Regions from separate parts of the Homo sapiens genome. Here regions 1 and 3 are each linked to region 2. The links come from fine-mapping of genetic effects on gene expression. A gene starts in region 2. Each other region holds a variant in brackets. All regions are shown on one strand. Distances are from middle to middle. Region 1 overlaps TSC2 (TSC complex subunit 2). Region 2 holds the start of TRAF7 (TNF receptor associated factor 7). Region 3 overlaps CASKIN1 (CASK interacting protein 1).

The links. PIP is the estimated chance that this variant, and not a neighbour inherited with it, causes the effect.
Region 1: its variant is fine-mapped to the expression of TRAF7 in whole blood (TOPMed, PIP above 0.99).
Region 3: its variant is fine-mapped to the expression of TRAF7 in whole blood (TOPMed, PIP 0.99).

Annotation. Positions count from the first base shown.
Region 1 is chr16:2,079,361-2,081,860 of GRCh38, reverse strand. TSC2 (TSC complex subunit 2) reads right to left here. Exons shown (of 42, transcript NM_000548.5): 28 at 2,433-2,500; 29 at 2,192-2,304; 30 at 1,484-1,696; 31 at 63-266. Among named protein-coding and RNA genes, the nearest start is that of MIR1225, 9.7 kb to the left of the region's middle. The variant G/A (reference allele first, on the strand shown) is at 1,150.
Region 2 is chr16:2,154,120-2,156,954 of GRCh38, reverse strand. TRAF7 (TNF receptor associated factor 7) reads right to left here and starts at 1,173. Exons shown (of 21, transcript NM_032271.3): 1 at 1,097-1,173. SNHG19 (small nucleolar RNA host gene 19) reads left to right here and starts at 1,597. Exons shown (of 2, transcript NR_132114.1): 1 at 1,597-1,812; 2 at 2,033-2,173. It overlaps SNORD60 (small nucleolar RNA, C/D box 60), which reads left to right and starts at 1,850; the gene lies at 1,850-1,932. It overlaps RAB26 (RAB26, member RAS oncogene family), which reads right to left. Exons shown (of 9, transcript NM_014353.5): 9 at 2,790-2,835. RefSeq lists enhancers at 1-565, 489-628, 639-738, 1,609-1,808 and a silencer at 1,039-1,128.
Region 3 is chr16:2,192,900-2,195,734 of GRCh38, reverse strand. All of the region lies in intron 1 of CASKIN1 (CASK interacting protein 1), which reads left to right. Among named protein-coding and RNA genes, the nearest start is that of CASKIN1, 2.3 kb to the left of the region's middle. The variant C/T (reference allele first, on the strand shown) is at 1,541.

The sequences.
Region 1 (2,500 bases), 75 kb after region 2:
GTCACCGGGAGCACCAGGCCAGTGGGAGCAGAGCCCGTGCCAAGGCCCGCCATGCCACTCACCTGTGTTGGAGCGAGGCAGAGGAGGGGGTTTGGCCGTGCTGGCTGCCGGCACCGACAGTGACTTGTACAGGGCTGTGTCCCGGTGCTCCTTGAAGCGCTCAGCCGCCATGAGGGCGTTAGACAGCTCCTGCAGGGGCATGTTGTTGATGTCCGAGGAGAAAGGGCTGAGCGGGTTCTCCAGGCTCATCAGCCAGCTGGTGTTCCCTGCGGAGGCGGCAGCACCTTTGGCCTGAGGCCAGTACCTCCCCTTACCCATCTCTGGCCCCCCAGGGGCCTCCTGGCCTGGGCCCTGGTTTTGCCCTCATGCTCCCTCCCACAATCCTCAGGACCACGATGTCGGAGCCAGCGCTGCTCTGACGGCCACCCACCCTGCTGCCCCGCTCAGCCCCTGCCTCGAGGCCAGGCTCCGCCAGGCACCTCAGAGCAGCGGCCTCCAGCCCACAGCCTCACAGTCCGGACCCAAGGCCTCCACGAGGGCTGGAACCCCTACTCTTTGCACCCCTCAGCCACGGCACACCCAGGCGCCCCTGGGCTCTGGGCCTCTGCAAAGGCCTCCCTCTGTCCCTGGGCTCTGGGCCTCTGCGGGGGCTCCCTCTGCCCCTGGGAACAGGCTGAGCTGTGCCCCCATGTTGGTATGCTTTAGTCCCAACCCCAGGAACTCAGAACGGGACTGTCTCTGGAGACTGGGTTTCAGAAAGCTAATTACGGCTAGCAAGGGACCAGAGCGGACCCTAAGCCATGACCGGTTTCCTCCCAAGAGGAGATTAACACGCAGACATCCAGGAAAGAGCCTGTGAGGACACAGGGAAAAAACCAACTGCATGCCAAGGATTGAGGCCTCTGAGGAGCACCTCCTGCCGAGGAGCACCTTGGTCTCGGACTTGCAGCCTCCAGGCGGGGAGGGCAACTCTCTGCCATGGAAGTCACTTGGTTCGCCACAGGCCCCTGCCCCACCTCAGCCACCTGGATCGCCCCTCACAGCTCACCTCTGGAGACTTACAAGTTACCCCCAAATGGCTGGGCGCGGTGGCTCACGCCTGTAATCCCAGCACTTTGGGAGGCCAAGGCGGGCGGATCACGAGGTCAG[G/A]AGATTGAGACCATCCTGGCTAACACAGTGAAACCCCATCTCTACTAGAAATACAAAAAAATTGGCCAGGCGTGGTGGCGGGCGCCTGTGGTCCCAGCTACTCGGGAGGCTGAGGCAGGAGAATGGCGTGAACCCGGGAGGTGGAGCTTGCAGTGAGCCGAGATTGCGCCACTGCGTTCCAGCGTGGGCCACAGAGCAAGACTCTGTCTCAAAAAAAAAACAAAAGTTACCCCCAAATATCCCAAGAGGGCCAAGTCTGCAATCGCCCCTGAGTGTCCACAGCTCTGTGGGTGACTGGCAGAAAGATGGCGCTCAGGCCAGCCCCGCCCAGTACCTGTGGGCCTCCGGACCAGGATCTCCGCCCAGCCCTGGGTCAGCAGGGGCACATAGGCCGCCAGGTTCGTCTTCTCCTGCACAGGAACCCGGGTGCCAGCTGAGGCCTTCTCAGGTTTCGCGGCTGGTGCAGTCCGTGGTCCTGGAGAAGTGGCACTGCCCAGGAACTGGGAGGCCGGCACGTCCAGGGCGCCAACTCGAAGACCATGGCCCCCTGAAGAAGAGGGCAGAGGACTGGTGACCACCACTTACCTGATGCAAAACCACCAGCCTCAAGCTGAATGCTCCCCCCGAGCCTGGCAAGCTAGTGCCACAGGCAGCCAGAGACGGTGGCAGCTCTGCCCTTGGGGCACGGCCCACCACAGTGCTGGCCTCAGTGAACCCAGGGCCACAGGGAGGGACCCAGAACCTGTCCTGCAGTCAGACCACGGCTCGCTGGAGCAGAGAAGGGCTCCAGGACTGAGCCGAGCTGAAAACCCGCAGGAAACACCAGCACCCAGAGCAGGCCCCTCTGCAGCAAGCGGGCCACACTCCACCACTCCACGGCTCTGGGGTGAGCTGTGGAAGGCTCACCCCAGAGTCAGGACGTGGGCCGGGCCTGAAGCCAGCCACCCCGGCCCCTGGGCTCGGGGCCTTCCTGAACACTGGGACCAGCAGCAACTGAGGGAGCCCCGGTGCCTGTGTGGAGGTGGCTGGGGCCAAGGCTCACCCGACATGGAACGGACCCGATCCCGGGCCCCACGGGACACCTGCTGCCCAGCCTGGGACTCCAGCTTGGCCGGCGCCTCCTTGGTCTGTCTCACATGCACCCCGGGGCTGGAGCTGAGAAGAGAATCCCACGCACAGGGTGGACTTAGTCCCCAGGCTGGTACGAGGGTGCCACGTGGGCCTGGGCTCGGGACAGCCGGTGTCGAGGCTGGCAGGCGCGGAGGAAAGGAAGGTGCAGTCACCTCGACTCCGGGCCGGACTGCAGCTCCCCCGAGTCCAGGCCTAGTAACGACCGGGTCCCGGTTCCCAC
Region 2 (2,835 bases):
CCACTCTGGCCTGGCTCAAGACAACCGTATCTTGACAGCAGGACCCCAGTGGGGACTAGGAGACGATGGCCTAGCCTCCCTCTCTCCTGCTTCCCCAGTGAACTCTGAAGTCTGTGGTCCACACACAGTTAGAAAGCTCTTTACTGGACCTAGATCGGACCGCCTCTCCAGCGCTTCCTCAACCCCAAGTCATTTGCCAGCATAATAACCCCCCCGCCCCACCCCACCATGCACCCTGTGAGCCTGGTCCGGCCTCATCGACTTCACCTCTCCACTTGCCAGTGCTTGCTGGGGTGCGTCAGGCCCCTTCTCACCCCAGGCCTATGTACATCTGGCTCTTTCTACTTGGAATGCTCCTCCTGCATGTCCTGGGACTGGCTGCTTCTCCAACAGGCCTTTGGCTAACGGTAGCGCCGCCCCTACCCCCGGCCAGTACTCACTTTTTCAGCACCCTCTTTCTTTCTTTCACAGCACATACCGCTGCTCCCCATGATTTTAACTACCTATTGTCAATCCCACCACCCTGTCTGTCTAGATGGGGGATGGGGGGAGTTGTTCCGCAGGAGGCATTTGCCAATGCATGGAGACATTTGTTATCGCAATTGAGGAAGGGGTGGTGTTTACTGGTATCTAGCGGCCAGGAGCCAGGCAAGCTGTTCCACATCCTACAATGTACAGGGCAGCTCCTCGCAGCAAAAAGCGACCCGGGCCGCGTGGTCGATGGTGCGGAGGTTGGGGAACCCTGCAGCAGACGCCGAGCACAGGAGAACTGGGACCGTGTTCTCCGCGGTCTCCCGGCGCCCAGAACAGTGCCTGGCACCCGGGAGTCTCGGGGAATGCAGGAAGAAGGAATGAGTAAAGAACTGCGCGAGAACAGGACGGAGCGAGGGACGGACTACTGACTGGCGGACGGACAGCGACGCGGACCCCGACCCTGACCCCGACCCCGACCGTCTCAGCCCCGCCCCCCCCTCCCCGCCCCGGCCCGACCCCTCGCCTCGCCTCGCCTCGCCTCGATCTCCACGCGCCCGATCCCGCCCCACCGCGCGGTCCCGAGGCGCGAGCCCCGGGTCGGGCGCGCCGCGGGGACACTCACCCGCCCGCGGCCGCCCGGGAGCGGCAGCGCCGCCAGCCCGCTTCATGATGCCCCCTCGGCCGCCGGCCGGGAAAGGGACTAGACGCGCGAGCCGGAAGCGCCAGGCCGCTGCGCCCGCCGGGACGTGTAGTTCCCCGCCTCTCCGGGCCCGGACGGCTGCCTCACGCGCCGCACTTCCGAAACTACGACTTCCGGCGGCCTCGTCGTCGCGGGGCGGGAATGGCAGCTTCAGAATCACTCTATGTTGCAGATCGAAGTCTGATTGGCTTTGTTCATCCGTCACTCACCGTTAGGCTTCACGGACTCTGCATAAGGGAGGAGCTTCGGGTCTGGGTCTGAGAGACCGTCTCCAAAAGAAATGCCACGGTACGATTGGTGGAAACAACGCGGCAGGGAGCGGAGCGTACCAGCGGCGGGGGAAGGCGGGCACTTCCGCCAGGATAGCCCAATGACAGAGGTGGGACAGTTTCTATAAAAGCTTGAGCCTCGCCCGCCCCTGTCTTTTCGGGGTCGAGTCCGAGGGGGAAGAGGTTTGTTAATACGTTCGCCATGTGCTACGATCTTGGGACGAACTGAGCCACGAGCGTGGCTTTGAGGGCCGTCCGAACGCTGCAGGCCGGCCAGGTCCCTGGGCGTCCAGGCCTGGCCTACGCACCACTTTGTCCCTTAGCGTTTAAAGGTTTCTTCCCGAATCTCAGGCCCTCAGCTACCTGCAGGTAAGACTGGGCCGGGCTTGGGTTCCCTTATTCTCCCAGTCTGTGATGAATTGCTTTGACTTCTGACACCTCGTATGAAAACTGCACGTGCAGTCTGATTATTTAGCAAGACTGAGGCTTGAGGGTGCGCACTCCTGACGGGGAGCTGAGAGTGGAAACAGGTGTTGCCCGAAACGAAGGAGTGGGGACTTAATGTCTGTATTTTGGCGCTGACTTTCAGGTTTCGTCGCGAGCCGGCTGCAAGTTTTGAACCTAAGTAAACCTCAATCCGGAGGGCCTAGCGGTAAGGTGGGCGCTGTGTCTATTGAAGTGCTTAGCAATAAAGAAAGGTAGTGAGTTGATTCGGTTTTCTCTCAAGTGTCTTTATTTTCCTATTCTGGCACCCCAGAGGTCTGGCTGATCCACAGGCAATCTTGGAAAAGGGTACAGACATGAAAACGGAAGCTCGTTACCAGTGACTTTTCATCTCTTGGGATTGCCTTCTCCATTTCTGCCCGTGATTTTTTTTTTTTTTTTTTGAGACGGAGTTTTGCTCGTTTCCCAGGCGGGAGTGCGATGGCACAACCTCCACCTCAAGCGATTTTCCTGCCTGAGCCTCCCAAATGGCTGGAATTACAGGCGCCCACCACCACGCCCGGCTAATTTTGTATTTTTAGTAGAGACGGGGTTTCTCCGTGTTAGGCTGGTCTCAAACTCCTGACCTCAGGTGATCTGCCCACCTCAGCCTCCCAAAGTGCTGGGATCACAGGTGTGAGCCACCACGCCCAGTCAAATACTGTTTTTCATGCCTTTTGCCCCAGGGTGAGTCCAAAAAGGCTTTTGAGATTTGTGGAGGGAAGTTGACACCACCTAGGGTTCCCATGTGCCTCCTTAGGGAGGCAGCCATGGGCCATGGAGGAATGGTAGCCACACACCTGCTGAGGGTTCTGGGCCTTGCTGAGTCTCTCAAACTCCAGCATCCTGCTCTAGAAGTGGATTTTTTTCAACAGATGAGACAGACGCTCCAGAAAACACAACTTTATT
Region 3 (2,835 bases), 39 kb before region 2:
AGGGCCGGCCTGGGCGCAAGGGCTTGGGGCCCTGCTCAGGCAGGCTCCAGCAGAGCCGGGTCTCCAGCTTCCCTGCTGGGAAAGGAGGCCATGAGGGAGTGGGGGACCACCACTGGCCATCCCCAGCTTGCCCTATGGCCGGCCCCAGGAAAGGGCTGGGAGCTTGGAGCCCTGGTCCCAGCACTCATCCTGGCTCAGCGCGTAGCCTCCCTGGGGGCCGCCGGAGATGGATGGATGGGCGTGTGGACCAGCCGCGTGTGCGGCTGCGCACGTATAGCCGTGTCAGTGTGTCAGGGCACCTGTGCGGGCACGGACAGGGCTCTGCAGGTCGGCACGTGGGGTCTGGGCGTCCTCCCTCCTCCCTCCACCCCCACAGACTGTAAGCCAGAGAGTCCCCCTCCCCTTCCTCCAGGGGGATGCCGAGAACTGGGACTGGCTTCTGGGAGATTGTTGGGGGCACCTAGGAGTCCCAGGAGGACCCCCTCCCCCGTACTTCACCAGCAGCCCATGACTGGCTAGCTCCTGTCCACTCTGTGCAGTAAGAGAGAGGGGGCACCGGTGCCTTGCAGGCTGGCCCCGAGCTGATTTCAGGTCCGGGGGCTCAGAAAGGGAGAGCTTGTGGGCAGAGGCAGCCTCAGCTGAGCCTGGAGAGCAGGTGTAGGGATTGAGGGAAGGCAAGGTAAAGGTTTCCACCTAGTGGCCGCATGACCTTGGACACAGACAACTCCAGCTCAGTGGACCTCAGTCTCCTCGTCTGTAGGATGGGATGTCAGCCTCACGGTGGGGTCCTAAGACCAGTGAGCCTGGGCACTTGCAGCCCAGGCATTCAGTAAGTGCTCAGTAAATGCCAGCAATGACCGCAGTCTTGGACGGCCCAGGGCCAGGGGCTGGGGAAGTGGGGGCTTCAGCTCTGGGGAGGTTCCTCCTCCCTTCTATTGTGGCCATTCTGGGGAGGTGTGGGGGCTTCCACTCTCACCTGGGTCTCTGCCTGTCTTGCCTGGCCTCTGGGACAGGAGAGACACCTGCCCTGGCCCCGGCTCCTGCTCTCTGACTCACAGGGGCGGGTGTAATAAATCAGAGGAGAAATCCCTCCATGAATTAGCTCCGTCGTCATGGCAACGCTGGCCTGCTTTGGAGTAAGATGTATTTTGATTCAGTAAAGTACAGCTGAGTTTGGGCCACGAGGTGGGGGGTGTCCAGCAGTATCCTCCAGGGCCCCGTGAGCCCAGGGCTGTCCCCATGAGCTTTGCTTCCATGGTCCCCTCTGGTTGCCCAGTCCCTTCCCTCCAGCCCCTGCTCCAGAGTCACCCCAGGCTCAGCCAGCCCCCGACTCGCCCTGCCCTGAAGGGAGCCTCCCGTGCCCGCACGCACACACTTAGCAGCTGTCCTTGAGGGGAAGAGGAGCCTGTTCTGGGGGAGATGCCGGTGCAGGGGCTGGCCTCCTGCTGGCCAGGAGGGACCCACTCTTCCCTCTGACCCGGACCCTATCCATGGAGGCCCCCTGTCCATGGAGGCAGGCCCAAGAATGCCGTGGAGGACA[C/T]CCCTGAGCACCGAGGGCCAGCTCCCCATCCCCCTCTCACCTTCTAATAGCCCACTAGTAGCTCCCTTCTAGCCTGGGATATGGACTGGACCCCAGAGGTGGGGACAGGCTCAGGATAGCAGTGAGAGGGCTGGTCGGGGGTAAGGCCTTTACTGTCATAGAGTCACAGGGCTTAGGGACCTCGTGGAGAGGGAGGGGGGCTCCTGGACTTTCATCCTGGCCCCGGCCCCCTCCAGCCATGCTCTGCTCCTGCTTCATCCAGAGAACCCGTTTCCAGGTGAAAACAGCCCCCAGCCCCAGGCCCTTCTCAGTTCTGGGACCTTCCTGGGTACCCACTGTCCCCCCACAGGAATGGGGGTTAGTGTGTCCCAAGACCTCAAGTTGCTGCCATCCAATTTCAGCCAGTTTCCCCCTTGAGGAGACCATAAGTGGGGAGAGGGACGAGATGGCTTTAGTAAGGCACCCCTCCTCACATGGGGGTGGTCCCCTTCCTGAGGGAGACACCCTCCCCCACTGGCAGATGTTACTTTCTGGGCTTTGACCTCCAGCCTCTCCGAGATTTCAGCCCCTGAAGGTGTGGCTGGGTGAGAAGGTGGTTTCCACACTGGCTGCCTCAGCTGTGGGAGGGAGGACAGGGCCTGGCTTGGACAGTCCTGGGGACATGCTGAGGGCTGTCCACCCTGGAGCTGGGAAGAGTGGGGGTCAGCGTTCTGTGGGGAGAACCTCCTGAGTGTGGTCCTGGCGGGGATGCACGGGACAGTGACACCTGCGCTCCCTTTAGCTAATGGCAAGGGATGGTGGTAGGCCCCACGACATAATTCCCAGGTCCCCATGCAAAATGTAAACGCAGGGCCCCTTGCTCAAAAATAAGAATTTCAGGCCGGGCATGGTGGCTCATGCCTGTCATCCCAGCACTTTGGGAGGCTGAGGCAGGCGGATCACCTGAGGTCGGGAGTTCGAGACCAGCCTGACCAACATGGAGAAACCCCGTCTCTACTAAAAATACAAAATTAGCCAGGAGTGGTGGTGCGTGCCTGTAATCCCAGCTACTCTGGAGGCTGAAGCAGAAGAATTGCTTGAACCCGGGAGGTGGAGGTTGTGGTGAGCCGAGATCGCACCATTGCACTCCAGCCTGGGCAACAAGAATGAAACTCCATCTCCAATAAAAAAAAAGAAAAAGAATTTCGAGATGGCGACAGGAGAGCATCCGCAGGCATGGGGTCCTTCTGAGCCAAGCACAGGCCGCACACCCATTAAGTCGCCTCGGCGGCCAGGCAGAGTGTGGGGGATGAGGA